Homo sapiens: one gene and its partner. The protein of the gene in region 1 purifies or fractionates together with the protein of each later gene. This does not show direct contact. Each region holds a gene or a part of one and is shown on either strand. Other genes may lie near its edges.

The links. Proteins that work in one complex are often made in the same cells at the same time.
Region 2: the proteins of ANTXR2 (region 1) and SPTBN4 purify together in Homo sapiens (affinity purification with mass spectrometry; one large-scale study listed by BioGRID and IntAct). This does not show direct contact.

What each region holds. Positions count from the first base shown.
Region 1 is NC_000004.12:79,975,645-79,979,577, forward strand, and holds part of ANTXR2 (anthrax toxin receptor 2 isoform 1 precursor), read right to left. Parts: intron 2,531-3,933; coding exon 2,363-2,530; intron 2,058-2,362; coding exon 1,977-2,057; coding exon of another isoform or gene 1,935-1,976; exon of another isoform or gene 1,882-1,934; intron 1-1,881.
Region 2 is NC_000019.10:40,473,383-40,477,315, reverse strand, and holds part of SPTBN4 (spectrin beta chain, non-erythrocytic 4), read right to left. Parts: intron 1-3,933.

The DNA.
Region 1 (3,933 bases):
GATGATGCATGAAAACAATTTTAAAATACATGAAGTTAAAGTCTAGCATGTAGAAGAGGAAGAAGAGTTAGTACATGTTGTTCCAGAACAGAACTCCAGATCACAGATGAATTTAAAAAGATACAAATGTCATTATGAAGAACCACAGTGATTGGATCATGACAGAGACTGCTTTATAAACCAACTAGTTCTCTCTACTTATGGTCTTAGCAAACAGTAAATGATGATCTGTTGGGGAAAATTCCAGGAATAAATTTTCTCAAATTACACTTTTTTTTTTTTTTTTGAGACGTAGTCTCTCTCTGTCGCCCAGGCTGGAGTGCAGTGGCAAGATCTCGGCTCACTGCAAGCTCCGCCTCCCAGGTTCACGCCATTCTCCTGCCTCAGCCTCGCGAGTAGCTGGGACTACAGGCGCCCGCCACCACGCCCTGCTAATTTTTTTTATTTTTAGTAGAGACGGGGTTTCTCCATGTTAGCCAGGATGGTCTCGATCTCCTGACCTCGTGATCCGCCCGCCTCGGCTTCCCAAAGTGCTGGGATTACAGGCGTGAGCCACCGCGCCCGGCCCTCAAATCGCATTTAAAAAAAAAATCCCCTGAAGTTGAAGTTCATTAAGTTTATTCCCTTGTTAAAACAGAGGAATGATCATGTTGACACACAGTGAAAACAATTCTAATGAGGTAGGAGGCAGTACTGGATTCTGGAGGTGAGGCTTGGACACCAGACCTAATTGATGATTAACTAAAACAGGGATGGGGCAAAAACACTTTCCCATAAGACACACTGACCAGGGTGCCATGTCAGTTTGCCATTGCCATGGCAACACCCAGAAGTTACCACCACTTTCCATGACAATGACCCGATGACCCGGAAGTTGTCACACCTTTTCTAGAAATGTCTGCATGATCCACCCCTTAATTTTCATATAATTAAAAGTGGGTATCAATATGACTACAGAACTGCCTCTGAGCTGCTCCTCTGAGCACGATGCCTATAGGGTAGCCCTGCTCCACAGGGAGTAGTACCTCTGCTGCTGCTATGCACTGTCGCTTCAACAAAAGTTGCTAACACCTCTGGCTTACCCTTGAATTCTTTTCTGGATGAAGCCAGGAACCTTCCTGGGCTAAGCTCCAATTTGGGAGCCTTCCTGCCCTGCATCAGATTCCTTCTTAGATGAAGTTAAGAACTCTCCCAGGCTAACCTTCAATTTTAGGGCTCACCTGCCCTGCATCACTACTATTATGAACTGTACTGTCTCTGAACCAAACCTATCCATTGTTACATATGAAAAGGTTTTAATCAATTTTTCTTACATCAATACAATGGGAAATAGTACTACTATATTACTGAAATTACAAAACTAGAGTAATTGTAGCCATATTTCCAAAACAAAAATATAGCCTCAGACAGGCTTCCCTGGTGGGGAAAAAATATATACATATCCATATGTGTGTATGTGTGTGTGTTTATCACTATCACAGATTTTTATAATGCTTTATAACTTTAAAGACACTTTTACGTAATAGTCAAGAAATTCGATTACATCAACTGTTGAAGGCAGGGAACATATTTATATCTATAAAACAGATTCTGAGGCCTTTGCCCTAGGCCTTATTGCTACTAAATGCTACTAAATGCTAGAGAAGGACTTCAGCTACTAACTCCCAGTCTGTTGGAACATTTTGTCTTCAAAGTCAAGGGCTGATGCAATGATTGTGCTTATTAAAGTATGTGTACAAATGACCAGAATTGTAAAGAATTTCTTGAAAAGGGAATGGTGTAAAAATGTAGTTTGAAGATGCATTCTAACAATAGGTAATTTATAGACAATTCTATGTAATAGAAATCTACACTTGACAGTATTTCCTTCCTCAAGTGCAATAGGGCTTTAAAATCATTTTTTATTACTATTTCCCTGCCTCCATTATACTGACTCAAGCAGTTAGCTCTTTCTCAATACATTCCCATATACAAACCTCATCTCCTTCCTGAGGTCGCATCAAAGAAACCCGGTCATACTGCCGCCTCAACAAAGCCCAGAGAGCATCAAGACGACCCTAAGGGAAAATGAGATTTGTGAATTCCCAGAGAATGTACTCAATCTCTATGTACTGAATAAATGAAGACATAAAACGAAGAAAGTAAAATCTTCTTTACCCTCATTTCTTTCATAAGGTAAACTAATAAGTAATAAAAACCTAGAGGTTCTTATTGCCAAGAAAGTATTCAGCTGTTAAGAGTGTACAATGAATATCTGCAATTTCATCTACCCTCTTTCAAGTAGCTGGGGGGATGTGGTACAAAAAAAGTTACAATGTCTCCAGAAGTTTTGAGTTAAATTACACAAAATCTGGACACATACCTTAATTGGGGTGTACCATTTTGTCTGAGGAGGCTGGTGTGTGGGTTTGGGTCGAGGTGGTCTAGGCCTGATGGGTTCCTCTGTTTCTTCAGGAATCTTCACCACAGCATTTTTGGCTTTCTCTAGCCTTGCACCTTCCTCAGTAGATCCTTTATCACCCCAACGAACCTGTAAAACAAAGGGAGAGTACTGTTATCAGACATAAAGTGTCCTAGAGGAACAGGCTCTTATTGAGCCTATGGTCCTTTAGTTCACATCTCAGAGTGAAAAAGAAGATGAGCAGGTATCCTAATTCCTAATTTCTCCTCTTCAGAGGCTAAATAGGTTTCTCACCACTCCTGACTGTATTTAATATTAAGATCCAAAAAAAAAAAAAACCCTTTGTAAAAAAATCTGGAGCCAACTAAATTTGAAGCAACCATTTTTCCATAGTTTTAAATAAAGAGTCCATTTGTGGTTTACATATGAAATGCATGACAGTGTGTAATTTTGTTCTCTAATTTGGTTTGTTCCCCTGCTAGCTAAACACATACCCATATGTAGTGATGACACTGGAAGAAATATATGAAAATGACGATAGTTAGCATTTACTGAGTGATTACTATGTGTCAGTCTGCATTTAATCCATACAAAAATGCAGTGAGATAGAGACTCTATTTTCTTCTTTCCAGATGAGGCACAGGGAGGTTAAGTGATATGCCCAAAGCCAGCTAGTAAGTGACAGGGCAGGGATTCGAACATGGATTGAAATGGGTTAATAAGTTTCCAATTGGTTAGAATTTTACAAATGTATTTTATACAAAAGAGTTGCTTCTTCCAAACTTTTCATCACATCTGATTAAGGCAAAAAGTATGATCTGAACATTTAGTTTTTGAAAGTAAAATAATTATATATGAGTTTTCTTTACTTTTATAGTTCTAAGTAATATAGTGTTCAGCCTTTAGTTCCCAAGCTCATCTGAGTATGGTTGTGTGGCATATGATTTTTTTCATTGAGGAGGTCAAATCTGAAAAGACTGCTTTGAAAAGAAAAGTTCAGGAACCCTAGAGAATTCCACAAATTATAGCAAATTTCCTCCTCTGAAAATTCTTGACATTGAAAAACCATAAGATCAAATGATTGTTTTATTTTTCAATAGACAGAAATTAAGAGCAAATGATTGTTGTATTTTTCAATAGACAGAAATTAAGAGCTAAATTTGAGTCAAACTGGGCATGTAAAAATAGGATGCAGCCCCTGGAGAAGAGCTTGTCCAACCAGGAGTAGTGGAAAGCCCTACAAAAACCAAGGACATCACCAAAAATGGGCGAGGTCAGAGGAGTGAAGCTCTAAAAACCTATAATAAGAGCTACCGAGGGCACACTATGACACATCAGAGTTAAGTGATTTCTAAAAAGAAAAAAAAAAATCCTAAGACTTCCTAAAGCATTTTAATGATCTGAATTAGTGGGTAGGGATAGAGAAGATTACTATTCATGGAAAGAACTATTCAGTCTTTTTGATAAGGCTTACTTAGATGTTTTTACCTTTTTTTACTACAATTTTAGAATGGGCTTTCAATTTCAAGTGG
Region 2 (3,933 bases), on another chromosome or scaffold:
ACACTTTGGGAGGCCAAGGTGGGAGGATCACTTGAGTCCAGGAGTTCAAGTTCAGCCTGGAAAATATTGCGAGACCCTGTCTCTATAAAAAAATAAAATAATAAGAAAATTAGCTGGGCATGATGGTGCATGCCTGTAGTCTCAGCTACTTGGGAGGCTACGGTGGGAGGATTGCTCAAGCCCAGGAGTTGGAGGTTGTAGTGAGCTATGATTTTTATCACCACACTCCAGCCTGGCAGCAGTCCAAATAATAATAATGATAATGATAATAATAATAATAATAATAATAAATTCTACAGCTGGGAGTGGTGGTACACATCTGTAATCCCAGCTACTCAGAAGGATGAGTTGACACCGGGAGTTTGAGACCTGTCTAGGCAACATGGAGAGACCCCCTCCTCCTCAAAAAACAAACAAAAACTAAAAACAGGACGGGCGCGGTGGCTCATGCCTGTAATTCCAGCACTTTGGGAGGCCAAGGCGGGCAGATCACGCGGTCAGGAGATCAAAACCATCCTGGCTAACACAGTGAAACCCCATCTCTGCTAAAAATACAAAAAATTAGCGGGGCATGGTGGCAGGCGCCTGTAGTCCTAGCTACTCGGGAGGCTGAGGCAGGAGAATGGCATGAACCCAGGAGGCGGAGCTTGCAGTGAGCCGAGATAGTGTCACTGCCCTCCAGCCTGGGCGACAGAGCAAGACTCCTTCTCAAAAACAAAAACAAACAAACAAAACTAAAAACAAACTCACTTACACTAAATTAGTAAATTCTAGAATTCTAAGTTGATATGTTCCTACCTTTTTAAGGTTCTAAGGCTCTAAAAGTATGACTGTAAGTTTCCATGAGTGTATGTTTTCATCAGTCTAGGTTTCTAGATCAGACAAAGCTGGCAATCCACCAGTTGAATCTGGTTCATACTTTGTGGCATATACAGATTTCTCTCTCTCTCTCTTTTTTTTTTTTTTTTTTGAGACAGAGTTTTGCTATTGACGCCCAGGCTGGAGTACAATGGCACGATCTAGGCTCACTGCAACCTCCGCCTCTGAGGTTCAGGCGATTCTCCTGCCTCATCCTCCTGAGTAGCTGGGATTAGAGGCACGCGCCACCACACCCAGCTAATTTTTGTATTTTTAATAGAGACAGGGTTTTGCCGTGCTGGCCAGGCTGGTCTCAAACACCCAACCTCCAGTGATCCCCCCACCTTGGCCTCCCAAAGCGCTGGGATTATAGGCGTGAGCTACCGCGCCTAACCAGGTTTCTTATTGTTTTGAGACAGGGTCTCAACCTGTTGCCCAGGCTGGAGTGCAGTGGCACAATCTCGGCTCACTGCAACCTCTGCTTCCCGGGCTCAGGAGATTCTCCCACCTCAGCCTGTTGACTAGCTGGAACTACAGGCATGCGCCACCACACCTGGCTAATGTTTATATTTTTAGTAGAGACGGGGTTTCACCATGTTGGCCAGGCTGGTCTCGAACTCCTGGGCTCAAGCGATCCGCCCGCCTCGGCCTCTCAAAGTGCTGGGACTACAGGTTTCTAGATCAGCCAGGTTTCTTGAGCCAGCGCCATGGCTCATGCCTGTAATCCTAGCATTTTGGGAGGCCAAGGTGGGCAGATTGCCCGAGCCCAGGAGTTCAAGACCAGCCTGGCCATCATGGTGAAACCCCGCCTCAATTAAAAATACAAAAATTAGCCAGGCATGGTGGTGCGGGCCTGTAGTCCCAGCTACTCGGGACTCCCGAGGCGGGAGAATCTCATGAACCTGGGAGGTGGAGGTTGCAGTGAGCTGACATTGCGCCACTGCACTCCAGCCTGGGCAACAGAGTGAGACTCCACCTCAAATAAATAAATAAATAAATAAAGTTCCAAAAATCTTAGTATCAGAGATCCATCTTGTGATTATAAACTGCTGAGTTACTAAAGTTCTAAGATTTGGAGGGAACTGATTCTGACCTTTGGGTTTTAAGAATTCATGATTATGATCATCTATATTTTATGATTCTAGCGCTCCGTGTTTCTAAGATGTTAAGGTCCCAAGGGTCAAAGGTGCTAGGGTGTCATGTTTTAAAGGCTTATGATTATGACGTTCCATATCTCTGAGGCTCCTCAGGGTCTTTGCCAGTTTTAATGCTGATGATTAAACACTTCTAAGGTTCCAGACCTCTATGAATACTAAGTACTAAGGTTCAAGGGTCTACAGTTCTAAAGGTCTAAGGTCTTTCTATAACTATAAAGTTCTCTGGTCTTTGCTAATATTGTTCTGATACATCAAAGTAGGGTGACTACTAGGCACTCTGGCTTACCCCTGTAATCAAAGCACTTTCGGAGGCCGAGGTGGGAGGGTTATTTTAGCCCAGGAGTTCCACACCAGCCTGGGCAACATAGCAAGACCCCATCTTACAAAAAAATTTTTTTGTTTTGTTTTGAGACGGAGTTAAGCTCTTGTCACTTAGGATGGATTGAAATGGTGTGATCTCAGCTCACTGAAACCCCCATCTCCCGGGTTCAAGTGATTCTCCTGCCTCAGCCTCCTGGGTAGCTGAGATTACAGGTGCCCACCACCACACCCATCTAATTTTTGTATTTTTAGTAGTGTCACCATATTGGTCAGGCTGGTCTCAAACTCCTGATCTCAAGTGATCCATCCGCCTCAGCCTCCCAAAGTGCTGGGATTACAGGCATCCGCCACCATGCTTCGCCAAAAAAAAAAATTATTTTTAATTAGCCAGGCATGGTGGCGCATGCCTGTAGTTCCAGCTATTCAGGAGGCTGAGGTGGGAGGATCACTTGAGTCCAGGAGTTCAAGGCTGCAGTGAGCCATGATCACACCACTGCACTCCAGCCTGGGTGAAGAGTGAGACCCTGACTCAAAAAAAAAAAAAAAATGGTAGGGTGACCCACTGTACTGGTTGGCCCAAGGCTGAGAGTTTCGGTGGTAAAAGCAGGAAGGTTTTGGTCACTCTATGTCAGATTTCTCAAGATCCACATTTCTAATTGGAAACTCCAAAGGTTTAGTATTATCAAGTCCCAAAGGTTCCTGTGTATTACAGTTTCAGTTTCTAAGGGCCTATGATCCTAGGGAACAATGACTAAAATTTCTTAGGTCTGTGATGATAACGTTTCACATTTCCAAAGCTCTTTTTTTTTTTTTTTTTTTTTTTTTTTTGAGATAGGTTCTTGCTTTACTGCTGGGGCTGGAGTGCAGTGGCGCGATCTTGACTCACTGCAATCTCCACCTCACAGTCTCAGGCCATCCTCCCACCTCAGCCTCCCAAATAGCTGGAACTACAGATGCATGCCACCACGCCTGGCTAATTTTTTTTTTTATTTTTATTTTTAGTAGAGACAGGGTTTCACTATGTTGGCGAACATGGTCTCGAACTCCTGCACTCAAGAGATCTGTCCACCTTTGCCTCCCAAAGTGCTGGGATTACAGGCGTGAGCCACCGCGCCAGGCCAGAGGTCTTCATTTCAAGAGGTCTAAGAATCTCTTAGACATTTCAAGTTCCAAGGATCTGATGGCTCTGCATTTCGGGATTCTAAGGGAATATGCTTACAGAGTCCCACCATTCTGGGACTGTACATTTCTAAGGCTCTAAGGCTGTGCTGACCTATACAGCAGTCACAAGCCACATGTGGCTATTTAAATTTAATTAAAACAGGCCGGGTGCCGTGGCTCATGCCTGTAATCTCAGCACTTTGGGAGGCCGAGACATGTGGATCACCTGAGGTTGGGAGTTCGAGACCAGCCTGACCAACATGGAGAAACCCCGTCTCTAGTAAAAATACAAAATTAGCTGGGCGTGGTGGCACATGCCTGTAATCCCAGCTACTAGGGAGGCTGAGGCAGGAGAATCGCTTGAACCTGGGAGGTGGAGGTTGCGGTGAGCCGAGATCGCGCCACTGCACTCCAGCCTGGGCAACAAGAGCGAAAC